3 separate regions of the Homo sapiens genome follow, and all the other regions are reported to be linked to region 2. Evidence: microRNA targets listed by miRTarBase, many of them from high-throughput screens and not tested one by one. Region 2 holds a microRNA gene; each other region holds the end of a gene's coding sequence.

Region 1 (3,083 bases), not on the chromosome of region 2:
CTTCTTGGTCAAGGTCTTGGGGGAGCAAAGCCTGCAACAAACGGGAGTGGCTGCTCAGGGGAACATTCTGGGGCTCTTCCCTCAAGGACCCCACCTGCCAGGCCTGGAGGACAGAACTCTGCTTGAGAACTACCAGGTTCCTTCACCTGGTCCAAGCCACCACATTCCTTAGTGTGGCTCTGGCTGTCATCTCCCAGGGCAGCACTTGCCCAGAAATCACTGCCTGTGGACAGACTTTTGCATGTTCCAGAGTTGACCTGATGATAACTCGTGAAGCATGAATTCTAGCTTCCTGGGAGGTGGCTCAGAGACAGCTGCAGGGAGCTGAAAGAAGCCATGAGGAATGTCACTTGTGGGCCGCCACCCCCCAGGGATGTCAGGTAGAGCGGCCTACCTCTGCCTATTTTAAATCCAGGTTCTGCATAAGACTTTTGGAGAAAAAATTCTAAATAAAAAAAAAAAAAGGCTGAAAATCACTGTTTATACTCAATGTCTTCAGTTATAAGAAAGAAGTTTTCTCATAATGGATCTCAGATGAATAAGTAGAATATGCTTCCTTCAGAACATATTTTAAAGTTTGTTTTGAAAAATGAGATTTGATCAAGGGTGAACAAAATAAATCTTAAGATTGATGGGCCGGGCACGGTGGCTCACGCCTGTAATCCCAGCACTTTGGGAGGCTGAGATGGGCAGATCACCTGAGGTCAGGAGTTTGAGACCAGCCTGGCCAACATGGTGAAACTCCGTCTCTACTACAAATACAAAAATGAGCCAGGTGTGGTAGTGCGCACCTGTAATCCCAGATACTCAGGAGGCTGAGGCACGAGAATCGCTTGAACCCGGGAGGGGGAGGTTGCAGTGACCCAAGATCATGCCACTGCACTCCAGCCTGGGCAACGGAGCAAGACTCGCTCTCAAAAACAACAATAACAAAAAAAGTTTTCTCATAATGGATCTCAGATGAATGAGTAGCAGCATATGCTTCCCTCAGAACAGATTTTAAAGATGGTTTTGAAAAATGAGATGCATTTGATCAAAGGTGAACAAAATAAATCTTAAGATTGATGAATAGAAAGATAACCCCTGCAGAAACCAACCTGGGAGACTTGCGGGAAAAATCTGTGGAGAAAAGACACCCCCCGCCCCCCGCCCACTAAGGTGTGGGGATTACAGGAATGCAGCAGAGATATGTGGAACAGTTCTGTGTCCTTTCAACTCTGTAGAAGTGTGAGGTGCTACTTGTGCTGAGCCATTTGTACATATGTGACTTCTAAAGGCAAATAGTGGATTATATCTGTGAGACGAAACAACTGGATAATTTATGTGTTAGGGCTCGTAGTTTTCTTACGAAAAACAGTTAGCTGAAATAAGTTAGCTAAAGCCTTCACTTCACATGTCATGCATTAAAACGTTTCACTCAGCCTGAACTCCTGCTGATTCAAGACCTGTAAAATTCAATTATAATTATGAAAATCCAAACATTACCATTTAATGACTCATTTAACAGAGAGCTTAGTTTAAACAAAACATTTAGAGTAAACAATAGAAATGTAATACCAGACGCTAATGAACTAATGAATTTGTAATTTGTCTTCTTTGCTATGGCACATTAGCCTTCTCAAAAAGAAAAAAGTTTCTCATAATAGATCTCAGATGAATGAGTAGCATATGCTTCCCTCAGAACAGATTTTAAAGTTGGTTTTGAAAAATGAGATGTATTTGATCAAGGGTGATCAAGCTTAGTCTTAGGCTTGGAGGCCTGGTACCCAACAAGTCAGTGAAATAGCACGGATCTGGCAGAATCCATCACCATATGCCACCCTGATGATACTTGGAGTCAAAGATAAATCCTATAGTTGAACCTGGAATACAAATAATGTTATTTGATTATCTCTGGGACATTTTCCTTCCCCAAAGTTCTTGACAGTACATTGGTTTTAAAACCTTCTAAACCATACGTAGGAAACTGATGGATTTGAGATTAGGGATTTCCAGTATATACACAACAGAGGAATTTAAATTTCCTGCCACTCAGAAATAAGGTGTTTTACTTGTGAAAGGTTGAAATGAGCCTCCTTGGTCTGGTGATTGGAAGAAAGCTGGATGAAACTCTTACAATCTCATTCTCCCGAAATAGAAAGGTCATTATGTCATTAAATTCTATACAGCATTCACACTTGTAACACAATGCATTTATTTGAACCAGTAAGATTTCCTTCTAGGCCCTTTATTTAAACTGTATTTGGTAAACTTCCCCACGGACCCAGCATAGTCCAGGGAAACACATAAGAAAAGAGATCAAAATGGTTTTCCTGAATGTGCATTTTTTTTTTTCTCACTAGCTTATGTGGACACAAGCTTACCCCCAAATTACCAGGTGATAGTACATTTCAAAGTTTTGATGACAGTTGTCAATTAACATCACTTACTCTCTCATCTGAAATTAAATCAAAATAACACTTTTGACGGTATTTTTATATTAGCTTTGTTTCAACATGTTGCCAAGGAAAGCACAGAGTATCTCTTTGCCTAGATATAGGATTTTGCCCCTCTACCCAGGATGAGTCCACTTTTCTGCTGCTGGGGCCATGATCTGTGTCAAAGGGGGCCATGATCTTCGACAAAGAGGGCCTTTCCGCTGAAATGTAACAGAGTGCTCCTGAAAAGTCATGAGGAGATCAAGTTCTCATTAAACTATGTGAGGGGGAAATTATTTAAAGAAATTTGCAAATAATCCTATAATTAATAAATGAAACTTTAAATCATTAATTTATGTATTTCACCTCCTAAATGATTTCTTTTGCCTGCTTGCATTTTTGTACACCAAGTCATGTTTGGTTAAAGTGACTGTTACGTCAGGTGTGTTGGCATGTGCCTGTACTCCCAGCTACTCGGGAGGCTGAGGCGGGAGGACTGCTTGATATTAGGAGTTTGAGGCCAGCCTGAGCAACATAGTGATACCTGTCTCAAAGAAAAGAAAGAAGGAAAGAGAAAAAAAAGAAGGTGTCTGCCAAAAAGAAAATATAGTCAATTGTGGACCAAAACCTTGACAAGGTATCCATGAGACTGGAAGCTAACTCAAA
Region 2 (3,110 bases):
ATGCTACCTTTATAACACTGGAAAGGTCTCACTGTTTACAAGGGTGAAACACATTATCAGAGCAATGTGGGCCGCACATCCCTGGAAGGTACCGCTGAGAAGGTGAGAAAGGGGAAAAGATTCTCTCACTCAGCCTCAAAACTGTCCCCCAGTATCAAAGTCATCTCCTCTCACACAGCATCCCTAACTAAGGTGGCAGCCCCTCTGCTTATCTGGAAAGAAGTACAACACACCTACCCTCCACTGACCTAAAGTGTGCCTCCTCCATCTACTGCCAAGTGACACTTTGCTCCTTCAGTGAAGCTTTCAGCAATGCCTCCCAAGCACTAAGGCCAGGCCTTTCTCTGCACTCCATCAGCACTTCAGACACACAACTCTTTTGGAACTTGTTACATTACCCTGCAATGATTTGTTGACAAACTTGTTCTCCTTTCCTGCCCCAGCAGACTGGGGACAGAGTAAGTCTAAGCCCTCATTCATCCAACACTCTTCAGGGAGGCTGGAATCTGGGCTCTCCTTCTCTCCCTGCTCTCAGTGCTCTCACCTGTATTCTAGGATCCAGTTCTTCCTCCTCTCTTGGGGACAATTTGGCCTCACTGCTGCTGCTTCCACCTCCTCCAGGCTCTTCTGCGACTGGGCTCCTAGGGACTTCATCCTCTACAACTTCAGGCCGCAGCTCCCCCTGTGGGGTCTCCCGCCCTCCTGGAACCTGTCTGAGCTCAGCCATGCTGACAGGGGGAGGGCAGAGCCCTATGCACAAGAGAGGACTGACATGCTGGGACCAGGGCCCCAGCTTGGGGCTTCCTGGGCTCTAGATGGCCAGGAGAAGAGTTTCTCTTCTCAAAAGGCAGAAAAGGTGGGCACAGGAAGAACCTCACACTAGGTTAGAGGTTGAGATTCAAGTTGTCAGTGGGGTTCCTAGAGCTGAAGCCTTGTCTGTGCAAAAGTTCTTCCCTTCCCGCCACAGGGAGTCCACTGTGACAAACCCGGAGCAACAGCTCCAAGGCAGGGGGCAAAGGGGGCTTGGATCCTGGACCGAGGCCTGCTAGGAGGAGCACCATTCGGGAGGGTGGAGGCAGGCGCCTCCAGGCTGTGGTGGCAGCTGGAGAGAGAAGGCTGGGCCCGAGCTGAGGCTGTAGGATGAGCGTCTCTGGGGAGCTGCAGAGAAACAAAGGCCAAGTATATGGTCATGTCAGCATCAAAACCGCAGCCACCAGCCCCTTCCAACTCTACAGCCTCCCAAAAACTACACTCTCACCACGCCCCCACCCATGTATTCCGACCAGTCCCTACCTCAACTTCTCTCCTTAGCCCTCAAGGACTTTAGATTCTACTCTTCCCCCGTCCCAGCTCCTCTCGACCCAGGCCCTCCTCAACCAGCGCCTTCGAGACTTTCCTCTGCACCCCTAGGCTCTCCTCCATCTCCTGTGGTCTCCCGCTCGTCCCACTCCACCCCAGCCCGGCTTTGCGATTCACCTTGTAACCCCGAGCCCCACCCCACCTTCTCTGTCCAACCCGAGACATCTAAGCCTCCCGTCTCCAATTCCACACTCTTCCGCAATCCCAAGGACCCTACTCCCGTCCATTCTACCCAGCCATGCGCAAAAGCCCCCCGCACAGCCTTACCTCAGTTTACCTTCCCGTCCGCGGAGCTTCTATGCTGCAAACAATCTCCCCCCCTCCCTCCCCGCAACAAGCCGATCCAACCAAAAACGACCAGGCAGACCAGAAGCGGAAATACATCATCGGTGAACAACGCTCTCCCTCCCACGCTCTCTCTCAAGCCGGGCCTCCTCGGGAGGCCTCACACTCCCCCGCCCTGCCTTCAGTTTCCGTACAAAATGGTGCCCCACGTTGCTCAGGCTAGCCGTAGGTTGCCTCCAGACCATACTCCACCAAGGCTGAATGAAAGAAAAACATGAGAATGTGGTGCTGAAGAAAATTAGGGCGCGGGACGGAAATCGAGAGTAACTGGTGAGAAGAGGAATACTAGATATAAAACGGAGATAATAGCCTCAGAGTGAGTAGTGCCATCTTGCTTTACGGAGCTGCGGCGGCGGCTGCCGGAAAGCCACTTCCGGCCTGCTCCACGGAGGCGGGCGCGACGCCGAAAGTGAGCTGGTAAACTTCCGGCAGTGGCTCCGGGGGCAACTCGAGTCCGGACGCTGGCGGGCTTCGCGGGCGAAGGCAAAGTCGATTTCCAAAAGTGACTTTCCTCACTCCCGTGAAGTCGGCGGAACCCTCCACTAACGGCGTCTGAGCGGACGGCTCCGATGTGTAAATCCCACTCCTCGAGGCCTCTGGACCTTGCACCTTGAACGACGTTTTGGTGGGGTCACCAATTGCTCCGTGAATACTAACCAGGAACTTAGTCAACATTAACTCAGTTAATTCACTCGTGCACCCAGGGTCAGATGCCCTCGATGAGCAGGAGTTTGTTACATGGCATTGTGTATCGTTACCTAGGTCCCTGAGCGAGCGCCTGCTTGTCACCTCTAGGTGTCGCTTGGTGAGGGGAGGGCCTAGGCCTAAGGGGAAGGGCTTCATTCAGGGTTGGATGTTTTGTTTTTACAAAAGGCGTAACTTCCTCAGAGTCAACTCAAAACTTTGCCCTGCAGATGGAAAAGGCAAATGGGCTGAATTCCCCTCCTTTTTGGATCCTGTCAAAGACAACCCAGCTAGACATTGAAGCAGTGAAAAAGACTTTTTTCAGTAACTACTTACAGAAAGGAAAAGAACTGACCTCTGTTCCGATTTGTACAGAAGTGACTGGGCATTTCAAAGGGAGAATGAAGGAAGGAAGGTGATCAGGGCTCAATAGTGTTGGAGAAGTGAAAAATTACAGATTTGATTGGCATAGATGCGATTCGGCCAGATGTGTCTGCTAGCTAGCAGCTATAGAAGTTAGAGTGCTTTTTTATGTATTTATTTATTTTGAGACGGAGTTTAACTCTTGTTGCCCAGGCTGGAGTGCAATGGCGCGATCTTGGCTCACTGCAACCTCCGCCCCACCCCCACCCCCGAGTACAAGAGATTCTCCTGCCTCAGCCTCCCGAGTAGCTGGGATTACAGGTGCATGCCAACACATCTGGCTAATTTTTCTATTTTTA
Region 3 (3,083 bases), not on the chromosome of region 2:
GACAGGAAGCAGAGGCTGGGAAAAGCTACATCTTTTATTCATGCTTTTTCACAGGAGCTGAAGTGGGAATCAGTACATCGAGAATCCACGCCCGGGGACCAGTAGGACTTGAGGGACTGCTTACTACTAAGTGGCTGCTGCGAGGGAAGGACCACGTGGTCTCAGATTTCTCAGAGCATGGAAGTTTAAAATATCTTCATGAGAACCTCCCTATTCCTCAGAGAAACACCAACTGAAAAGAGCCAGGAAAACCCGGGAATTTTCCAAAAGGTCTTCACGTTAAACTTGTCTTATCTCAGGAGAGAGCCCGCTCTTGTCTCCCAGTTCCTGGTAGGGTCTGCCTGTTGGAAAGTGTACCTGGATGCTTCTGGGCTCCGTTTGGCAATAGCAGTCTTGGCTGATGTGCACAGTCTGGCTCCCAGCTCACCCTTTTTTTTTAAAGTAAGAAAATAGTTGCTACCGATAGGGACTTTGCCAAGTCCAATTATCTTCTAGGATTGAAAGGTGCATTTTCCCCATAAAAAAGGCGAGGAAAACCCATGGCTGCTTTGTGTCACCTCAGTGACTTACAGTCCCCCTTGGCATTTAGTTGGTACTAGAGCCAGTCATCCTTAACAAATCTTTTCACATTTTATTTCTTTCACATGTAGTCATCTTCAAAAAGGAAAGATTTGGAATTTTAGAAAAGGGGCAACTCTTCTTTTTAGCATTCTCATCAGAAAGTCACAAAAATCGATGGAATCATTTCCACTGGGAAGATTGACCTTTTGTATTTATTTGTGGGGTAAATTAATAAGCATTCCAGATGCTTGCAGCTTCCTGCATCCAGGAGATGCTGTGTTCCCCGTGATGCAGCTGGAACCCAAGCTGCAGCAGGAGATGCAAGTTTCAGGATGTTCCCCACTGAGCTGGAGGAATATCTACAGCAGTGATGCTTGAAATTTTTGTATGAATTATTTTGTCGTCCTACCCTTTTCCTCCAAAACAAAAATTAGAGGATTATTTTAATACTTTGGATTCTTCCCCCTTTTTTGAGAAATAAAGTTTTTTATGAAAAGCCTGTGCGTGATTGAAGTTTTCTCCCTTAATTGTTGTTACCCCCTTCCTTTTCCTCTCTTGTGACCCTCGTGCCCTGCTTGTGGGCATGGTCTCTTCTCTGGAAGCTGTCTGGGGAGACAAGACATCTGCCTCAACAGTGTTTGTTGGTGGAAGCAACATAGGCAGTCCCCACAGAGGGACTCAGACGGAGAGACAGGAAAGGAAAACAGGAGATTAAGCCCCAAGAGCTTGAAGACTAAAAGTGCAGTGAAGGTCTGAAGTTGGTGGGGTCCAACCTGAGCGAGCTCCCGCGGTGGCACATAGCCCCAGCTGACATCCTTAGTTCACTGCATCCCCCCAGCTCCTCCCTGCCAGTCCTGTTGCCTCAGGATCACTTGACAGCTCGGACCCTCCCCACTCTCCCTCCATCTCTAGCTCCTGTCCTTAGGGCCCCTGGTGCCTGACAGTCTGCAGTTGAAAGATTTCATGGGGGCCTCCTAAAGAAATAAGCACTCGCTTACGATGCTGCTGCTTTTCCTCTGAGGATGTTTTACCAGCACAAGAATGATGGTGTCATGTGGAACATGTTCCCAGGCTGGCTGCACAGCCTGCCTCTCCTCCAGACCCTTACATGGTCTGGCAAGTCACCCTGACTGCCCTGCCCTCTGGATGAGGAGTTCTGGCATAGCTTGCCTGAAAAGGCTATAAACAGTCCTGCCTGAAACTGTCACAAATACCACAATGAGCTCCCAACCAGACAACAAATGCCCAGGAATCTTAAATAGAAGGCAGCCCAAGAGAGCTGGGGCCCTTGGGGAAGACCACTGAGAAGGCAGGCCTGCATCTGGGCCCTGAGAAAGACCACTATCATCATCAGACAGAAACCCCAAGCTTCACTCATTAAACTGGCCTGCATCAATCATTGCTATAAATGCACACATTGAGTTGAACTGCATGCCACAGAAACTTCAAAGAATTGGGGCTTGAACTTGATCATTCCTGTTTCTCTCATGTAAAAAGAGCTCTGGAGGTAGGCAGCTTCAAGGCTGACTTAATGCCTCCATGAAGGCCATCAGGCACTGGGGCTGCTTTTGATTTATTCTCTTCTGTCCTAGGGTAAGGCTCTTGTCCACATGGTAGTGGCATTCCAACCATCAGGACTGCATTCCAGCCAGCAGGAAGAAGGAAAAACCATAGGCAGAGGAGTGTCTGCCAGCTGCCCCTTCTAAGTGACATTCCAGGAAGACCCCCCTGCCCAGTGCTTGACCAAAACTAGCTCATGGCCTACCCTCTCTAAAAGGGATCTGGGAGGTGTAGCTTTTTTATTTGGGCACATTGCAGCTCCAAGAAAGTAAGGGTTCTATTGGTAAGGGAGGAGGAAAATCGGATAGGGGAAGAAGATTATCCTAATTGATTCATGGAGCTGAGAGCAGGATTCATTCACCTAAACAGTAGGGCTGCTGGGGAATAAAAGAGGGCTGGGATGGCGGCCAGAGAGGTAGCCACAATGTCCCACTGCACTGCCTGACAGAGGAAATGGGAGGGAGAGGTGAGCAGACACTAAAGTTTCATGGTGCTATTTGCAGCCCAGTGTAATGGAGGGAGCACTGAACTGGGACTCCAGAATTTTTTTTCCAGCTCTGTCACTGACTGGCATTGTGACCTTGGGTAACTACTTAAACATTTTTGCCTCAGTTTCCACACTCATGAAATGGGAGCTTGGATAAGCTTTCTAGTTAGATGGAGGTGTGGGAAGCTCTTTATCACTAAATTGCAAATTAGCTGAACAAGGTGTTTTTTATATCTGACATCCACAGCTGGCCAAGTCTTTGGTAGGCATTGAAAGCAAAACCCAACATCACTGACCCGCTCTTCACACACACACACACACACACCCCTCTGCTATTTGCTGTATATGTGGGCCTCAGACTACTTCAAACTGTGGTTCAAGGATCATTGTAACAGAATGACCACAGGGCCTAGCTAAAACTGTAGATTCCCGCACCCAGACCTGCTGAGCCAAAATTTCTGAGGGTGGGGCAAAG

What was found. The annotated mature microRNA hsa-miR-3124-3p reads ACUUUCCUCACUCCCGUGAAGU and lies in region 2 at 2,210-2,231, shown strand. An mRNA with a match to its seed (bases 2 to 7 or 8) in the 3' UTR can be bound and repressed. Matches are read on the target gene's strand: a 7mer-m8 pairs with bases 2 to 8, a 7mer-A1 pairs with bases 2 to 7 and ends in A, and an 8mer does both.
Region 1: miRTarBase lists TAL2 as a target of hsa-miR-3124-3p. The part of its 3' UTR that is shown has no 7-base or 8-base seed match.
Region 3: the mRNA of ALDH18A1 is a reported target of hsa-miR-3124-3p. Seed matches in the 3' UTR shown: 8mer at 663-670.

The regions. Positions count from the first base shown.
Region 1 is chr9:105,662,652-105,665,734 of GRCh38, forward strand. It overlaps TAL2 (TAL bHLH transcription factor 2), which reads left to right. Exons shown (of 1, transcript NM_005421.3): 1 at 1-473. The coding sequence ends at 172. Among named protein-coding and RNA genes, the nearest start is that of TAL2, 1.7 kb to the left of the region's middle.
Region 2 is chr1:248,824,209-248,827,318 of GRCh38, forward strand. MIR3124 (microRNA 3124) reads left to right here and starts at 2,169; the gene lies at 2,169-2,235. SH3BP5L (SH3 binding domain protein 5 like) reads right to left here and starts at 1,707. Exons shown (of 7, transcript NM_030645.3): 1 at 1,627-1,707; 2 at 545-1,158. The coding sequence starts at 727. RefSeq lists enhancers at 1,379-1,438, 1,501-2,052, 1,809-2,068, 2,053-2,603, 2,179-2,228 and 1 more.
Region 3 is chr10:95,603,915-95,606,997 of GRCh38, reverse strand. ALDH18A1 (aldehyde dehydrogenase 18 family member A1) reads left to right here. Exons shown (of 18, transcript NM_002860.4): 18 at 55-1,057. The coding sequence ends at 236. Among named protein-coding and RNA genes, the nearest start is that of SORBS1, 44 kb to the right of the region's middle.